Homo sapiens: one gene and its partner. The protein of the gene in region 1 purifies or fractionates together with the protein of each later gene. This does not show direct contact. Each region holds a gene or a part of one and is shown on either strand. Other genes may lie near its edges.

Evidence for each region.
Region 2: the proteins of NUGGC (region 1) and POLD2 purify together in Homo sapiens (affinity purification with mass spectrometry; one large-scale study listed by BioGRID and IntAct). This does not show direct contact.

What each region holds. Positions count from the first base shown.
Region 1 is NC_000008.11:28,024,835-28,028,650, reverse strand, and holds part of NUGGC (nuclear GTPase SLIP-GC), read left to right. Parts: intron 1-1,598; coding exon 1,599-1,689; intron 1,690-3,816. UniProt on the Homo sapiens protein: Nuclear GTPase found in germinal center B-cells, where it may inhibit function of the activation-induced cytidine deaminase AICDA. Reduces somatic hypermutation in B-cells which may enhance genome stability.
Region 2 is NC_000007.14:44,117,078-44,120,577, reverse strand, and holds part of POLD2 (DNA polymerase delta subunit 2), read left to right. Parts: intron 1-2,513; coding exon 2,514-2,635; intron 2,636-2,835; coding exon 2,836-2,959; intron 2,960-3,330; coding exon 3,331-3,445; intron 3,446-3,500. UniProt on the Homo sapiens protein: Accessory component of both the DNA polymerase delta complex and the DNA polymerase zeta complex.

The DNA of each region.
Region 1 (3,816 bases):
CTGGGCCTCATGGCTTGCCACCCCCTTTCCCCCAAGTAGTAGAGATCCTTGAAGTCCATGCCACTGTGGGCTTCCTCCCTGGCCATGTGAGGCTCCACATTTTCTGCCTCAACCCAGGCTGGCTGATCCTGTCTCCCAAGCCCTCAGGGAAGCTGGCCTATTGCTATCTCAGTCCACCTCAGAACCAGCCTTCTTGAAACATCTCCAACCTGTTTCTGCCCAATCTCCTCTCCTCCACCGGGACTGCAGTTTTGGAAAATATCCTTCTTTACAATTCAAAGCATGTAATTCCCCTTGGAGTAGGCTAAGAGGCATCTTGTTCACTAGCAGCAGTTTAGTTTCAATCCTTTAACATGTTATCACCGTCTAAAAATTCATGGACAAGAAACTGGCCGAACTCCATAAAGCCAGTTCCCATTTCCCCATTGTGTACATAGACACTGGATCTTAAGACACCCAGGAAACTATGTCGCTTAAAAAATGTGTACGTTGACCATGTACAAATGTATCTGAAATGACAGAAACATAGGAAGTTAAAACTGGGCAAGACCATAGAGTGTTCCCATTCTGTGATTTTTTTTTTTTTTTTTAAAGAACGCCAGTTAACTTTTAGTTTTTTAAAATATTTTAGTTCTACACAATGGGTGAAATTTCTTTTTATACATAATGTTTGAAGATTTACTTTTTTTAAATTACCTCTTCGCAATAGTCCTGTAAATTAAAGAATGGAATAGTATTTTGTTGAATATACAGATTAGTCTCTGATATATTGATCGATAATGTGGCTTGCTGCTTCGTTTTCACTCTAGCGTGAGGTGACTCCTTCTTGTGGTTTAGGAGCTGTGAATCTCTCGTTCCCTGATCTTAAAGATGAGGAAGCTGGAACCTAGAGGCCTTGAGTTACAGGTTCCAGGTCCATGGCTAGAGCTGAGATGTATGCTTAGGGCTCTTGATCTAGAATCTAGAACGTTAAAGAAAAAGCGTAGGAGATCCAGCTTCAAAACTAGACTCTGCCAGGCTAGAGGAAGGAGCCTGACATTTTTTTCAAAGGGAGGCAGAAACAGAAGAGGGAAGAAAGGGGTTTTAGTTGATAAAAGGACTAAGAGTAGCAAGAAGACACTTCTCAGGCAGTTGGGAAGAATCAGACATGTACAGTAAGGTGAGTGGCACAAAGCAAGTGTGCAGCAAACATCTCCCCAGTGAGCAGATGCATGGACGAGAGGATGGTGGGAAAGTGACCAGCTCTTTCCCTCTTTTTCCATCTCTGTGATTGCCATTCTCTCCGCCATGCCTTCATGCTTCCCCATTAGCTCCTGATTTGATCAGCTGGCACCAGAGCTGCAGCCCCCCACGAGCCTGTAGGTGGGGAGGGAGATGCTGTACAGATGGGAGCCCACAGAAATGTTGTCTTGCTGCCTCCTGGGCCATTTGGTGTCCTTGAAAATGTTTCACCGTTTTGCAACTGGGTTGCAAAGCCTGACTTTGGCAACCCCAGTCTGTACCTTCCGTGGCTGGGGGACTGGGTGGGGTCCCTTTTATAAGATCCACTTTTCCTTGGGCTGCACCATCCTAACAGACTGAATGTCCTTGTTGCATAGACTGGAATCGTGGAGAAGGTGAAGGGCAGCATCACCACTATGCTGGCCCTTGCTTCGTCCCAGGGGGATGGCCTCTACAAGGAGCTTGCAGGTAAATACGCCAAAGCTTTGTATACAGGGTGATTGTGCAGACAGCCCTGGCTGTGGTTACTCCTTCCTGAATTTAAAGGTATTAAACTTTAAATTTTAGGAATTTAAGTTAGGAAGTTAGGAAGAATTAGCAGGGCAAGGAATGGAGATGATGACGATGATGATGGTGATGATGATGATGATGATGATGATGATGATGAAAACAACAGCCCTACCCTTTGCCCAGCACCCAACTGACAGCAAGCATTATACTCAGGCTTTGTGCTCATGGTTTCACTGAATTCTCACATTACCTCCCAGGGATAGATGTTGTTGCTCCATTTTGCAGATGCAGAAATAGAGACTTATATTAGGAAATGTGCCCAAGGTCCCATAGCTGGAAAGCGGCTAATTTAAATCCACAGCTCTGCCCTGCTCTCTCCATAAAGTCTTTCTTTTAAGTTGATGCCTCCTTAAGAAAAATTTCATGGTCTGGTGATGGTGGAGAAAGGCTTCTCTTAATCCACCTATAGCCTGGGGATGCGGCCCCAGCTGTGGACCTTGGTGTAGGCAACCATGTCCCTTTCAGGCCATGGGCTCCATCAGGCCCCCGGTATAAACTGGAGAGGGTAACCTGGTACAAACAGCAATTAAGTAATTTCTAGCCAAATTTAAAATGCACATATCATTTGGCGCAGCAACCCTACAGATATCCTTATATGGGGGGAGGGTGGCATATAGACAAGGTTATTCAGGGTAACATTCTAAAGTCAGAAATGGGGACAACTCAAATATCTGTAAGTAAAGCACTGCTCAAATTAAATTAGATACACAAGGAGTGGAGGACTGTGTAACTGTTAGAAAAAATAAAGCAGCTTTATAGGTAGTGGCATGAAATGATCTCCAAAATATATTACAAAGTGGAAAACAGCAAAGTGAGTAAATGTATATGGTATGTTGCCATTTGTGAGAGGGGAAAAAAGGAAATACATATGTATATGTTTGTATGTGCATAAAAATCTCCATGGGCTACATAGAACACTGGCAGTACTCGTTGCCTCTAAGGAGGGGAACTGGAAGGCTGGAGGGTAGGAGAGGGTGGGAGCCTTGCTCTGCACCCTGTATATTTTGTGCCTTTTATATTTTATACCACATCCATAGTTGCCTGCTGCAATGAACAGATCTGATGCCATTTGAGTTTGCCAGGGTGAAAGTAGACAGAGCTGTTCCCAAAGTCAAAGCCACAATGGCTGCTTCTAACAATCCGTTCTGCACTTCTCCATCTCTCTGGGAATCTTTATGACCCATTTATGGCTGGTTAGATGGACCTCTAACCTGATCTAACGGACTCCAGGGAAGGAGATACAACACCCTCACACTATAATGTACTGGACTCTCATGACCTTCTGTCCAGGCCTTTATAGGAATCTAAGTTTTAAGATGATAGTCATTCCAATGTGCCTGCTTTAAAGAACTCCCGCTTGCCAGAGATCTTGACCAGCTTCAGTGAAGCTTCCCCGCATCCCAGCCCTGAATAACCACTCTGTCTCTGAACTTCAAGAATTATAGCAGGTGCACTTGACAGATGGTGCTCCCCTCAGTTTGATGTCAAGTGCAACTGCTATAATTTAAGCCTATTTCCTTCTCTTCACCATCGACAGCAAATATACATCATGTCAGGGGGTCATACTTTATAAAGAAATCTAAAAGGCAGTCCCTGTTGTCAGGGCCTTACCTGGTTGGTAAGACAAGATGTGTAAGAATGTGCGTTGTAAGACTGGGGAGTTTACATTCACTCAGCAAGCGATTCTGATCACGTCCTGGGTGCCAGGCAGTGTTCTGGGTGCTGAGGACACAGTGGTGGCCAATACAGGCAAGAGTCCCCACCTTCATGGAGCTCACAGCCCAGTGGGTGGAAGGCAGGCAGTCAGCAAACTAATAAGTGAAATATGTGGCAGGGAAGCGAAACACAGAAAGGGAAGAAGGGATGCTGAGGTACGGGACAGGGTGGTGGGACAGGGTGGTAAAGGAAGGTCTCCCTGGGAATGTGACACTTAAGCAAAGCCCTGAGGGAGGGAACCCACTCAGACTTCAGATCGTTATTCTTGAAGTTCAGAGACAGAGTGGTTATTCAGGGCTGGGACGCGGG
Region 2 (3,500 bases), on another chromosome or scaffold:
TGGATTATAATTCCAGATGAGATGTGGGTGGGGACACAGAGCCAAATCATATCAGGATGTTTTCTGTTTTGTTTACCTGAGACAAAGTGCTGTTCACCTCTCCTCTCCCACATAATCAGGGGCTCCCTCCTGCGGCTCCGGTAGCTTTTCCTCACTTTCCTTTCAGCCCTCGGGACACCTTCCTTGGCTCCTTTCAGAGCTCAGTTACTACTTGGGCCCAATGTCAATGCCACCTTCTAGATTCTTTCCGGCAGCACCTCCTCTGGTCGCACATTTCTCTTCCAGTTATTGGAGCTGTCAAAAAAGCTCCCCAGTGATGGACGATAGCGATTTCACTGTGCTCACAGACTGGTCAGGAAACCAAACAGCTGCCACAGTGAATGTGTTGATAGCAGCGGGGCAGCAGTAGCACTCGCTCACAGGCCTGGTGGTTGGTGCTGGCCCCCACCCTGAATACCTACATGTGGCTTCTCCATGTGGCCTGTGCATCCTCACTGAAGCTCAGCCTGTCTCTCCAAATTGGTCTTTCCACTCACCTGTTCCCCAAACCTGCCCAGACCTTCCTGCTGTAGGCTTTTCCCTTCACTTGGCACACTCTTTCCCTTGTCTTCCCATGGCCCCATCTAAGCCCCACTGTCAGCTGAAGTGTTATATTCTTTGAGGGGCCACCTGAAGCCACCTTGCAATGAGGGCCTCCGTTTTCTACCTCAGCTCACCATTTGTTCACAGCACTTGTCACTGTGGCGAGTTACTTGTCTATGGCCTGTTGTCGTTCTCCTGCCTAGACCCAGTGGGCTGAGTGGGGGCAAGTGTTGGCTTTTATGTCCAGTTTTGATCTTGGTGCCAGCACATTGCCTGGGTGGAAGCATGTCCTACTATCGGTTACAGGGATGTCATTCTGCCCAGTGCTCAGGGGCATACACTTGGATCCCAGTTGTGTGCCCTTGGACACATTGCTTAACCTCTCTGTGCATCAGTTGGGTGATAATATCTACTCCTGGCACATTTTCAGCGTTGGCTGAGTTACATGTACAGTGCTTAGGCCACCTGGGGGAGAGTAAGAGTGGGATACGTGAGGATGTGGAGTCTGTTGCATTTCTGTCTGCTGCTGGCATCCTTCTTGTCTTGTTTTGAGTTGCTCGCCTCTGTCTGCTCCCTAGGGCGTAGATTTGAGGAATATTCCTGGTTCTTCCCAGGCAGCAGGGGCTCAGGCTGTGCTGGAGTCAGCTAGGCTAAGGGGCTGGTCTGGCATCCGCGTTGTCCTGTCACCTCCTTGGTGTTTTCTCCAGGCCTGGATCTGTGCTGTGTGGGCACCTGTATTCCTCCCTCCTGCCCTCACTGATTCTCCATACCTTTCTTCTCGAGAGTGCCAAGCCCCTCCCATGTGTTCTTGTTCATACCTAGGATCCCGGGAAGGGGCTGGGGAAGACGGTGCCCAGGTGCCCTGGGTAAACAAAGCCACCTGACTCCACGGGAATGGAATGGGTGGAGGGGATCTGAGGTCTGCATTTTGAGTATCTCTGGTCTCAGAGGATGAAGCATTTGGTGGGGGTTGGGGGTGGGGGGTAGGGTGGAAGAATCTAAAGTCTTAAAAGAAAATGGCAGTTATTTGTGGGACAGGGCTGTGTTGAGACTTGGCATGCTTCTTTTTAAGAGTCAGTGTTGTAATTTAGGTATAAGTGAAGCAGTACTTTGTATTAGTTTCCTGTAGGCGCTGTAACAAAGCACCACAAACTGGTTGACTTAAAACAACAGACATGGCCGGGCACGGTGGCTCACGACTGTAATCCCAGCACTTTGGGAGGCCGAGGCGGGCAGATCACAAGGTCAAGAGATTGAGACCATCCTGGCTAACACGGTGAAACCCTGTCTCTACTAAAAATACAAAAAAAAAAAAATTAGCTGGGCGTGGTGGCACACGCCTGTAGTCCCAGCTACTCGGGAGGCTGAGGCAGGAGAATGGCGTGAACCCGGGAGGCGGAGCTTGCAGTGAGCTGAGATCGCGCCACTGCACTCCAGCCTGGATGACAGCGAGACTCCGCCTCAAAACAAAAACAAAAACAGAAACAACAATAACAGAAAAACACAGACATTTACTCTCTGGCAGTTCTGGAGGCCAGAAGTTGAAATCCAGATGTCAGCAGGATTGGCTCCTTCTGAAGGCCCGAGGGGAGGGTCCTTCCTGGCCTCCTCCCTGGTGTTCCTGGGCTTGTGGCCGCATCACTCCGCTCTGCCCGTCTTCACACTCCCTCTTGTCTGTGTGTCTGTCTCTCTGTTCTCATGAGGACACTTGGCATCCAGGGCCCAACCACACCCAGAGTCCCTGGTCTCCTGTGGCTGACTCACTTTTTACTGTCACCGTGAAGTCCAGGGGGTCCTTGTACTTGATGTTCTCTCCTGGCAAGGCCAGGGCCCTGTGATTGGCCTCTCATGGAGTGCTGGGCAGGGCCTCCATGGCCTCTGTCGGGCGGGGGGGCTACTTCATCTCTGAGTCTGTACCCCTCGTGTCCCAGGCAGTGGAGTGGGAGTGAAGAAGCTGTGTGAACTGCAGCCTGAGGAGAAGTGCTGTGTGGTGGGCACTCTGTTCAAGGCCATGCCGCTGCAGCCCTCCATCCTGCGGGAGGTCAGCGAGGAGGTGAGGCAGGGTGCTACACAGTGGGGCCGCCAGGCAGACCTGGCCTCCCACTAGAACACCTCCCTGGAGGTGGGGTTGTGGGGAAGCAGGTTCAGAGACAATGGACTCCAGAGGGGTGGGGGCTGCGGTGCCAGCTCACTAACACCAGAGCTTTGGTGGGCTCTGGCCCCAAGATTATACCTCCTGTCTCTGCATTCCAGCACAACCTGCTCCCCCAGCCTCCTCGGAGTAAATACATACACCCAGATGACGAGCTGGTCTTGGAAGATGAACTGCAGCGTATCAAACTAAAAGGCACCATTGACGTGTCAAAGCTGGTTACGGGTAGGGAGCCCAATGAGAGGATGTGGGTGATGCAGGTGAAGAGCCCAGCGGTGGTGTGTTAGGGATGGTGTGAGTGGGGAGCCTGGGGGGAGTGGGGGGGTGTGGCCTGGGCACACGTGTGTTCTTGAGGAGGTAGGTGAGGCTCCAGGCGGTCGGAGGCCATCAGATTGGGTGAGACCTGGCTGGGAGATGGGTCTCCCCACCTCCATCCAAGGGCAGTGACTCCAGGAAGCAGGCATGCATCCTGGAGTCCTAGGTGAGAATTCACCAATGTGGTTGTGGAGAACTGGCTTGTTTTGCCCGTTGGGGTGACTGGAAGGAGTGGTAGCACCTGGGGCTCCCTGCTCAGGCCTGATGCCACTGCTCCCCAGGGACTGTCCTGGCTGTGTTTGGCTCCGTGAGAGACGACGGGAAGTTTCTGGTGGAGGACTATTGCTTTGCTGACCTTGCTCCCCAGAAGCCCGCACCCCCACTTGACACAGATAGGTGAGCAGCAGTTCTCGGGAGCTGGAACCAGCTCATGGTCAGTGGAATCTTTGAG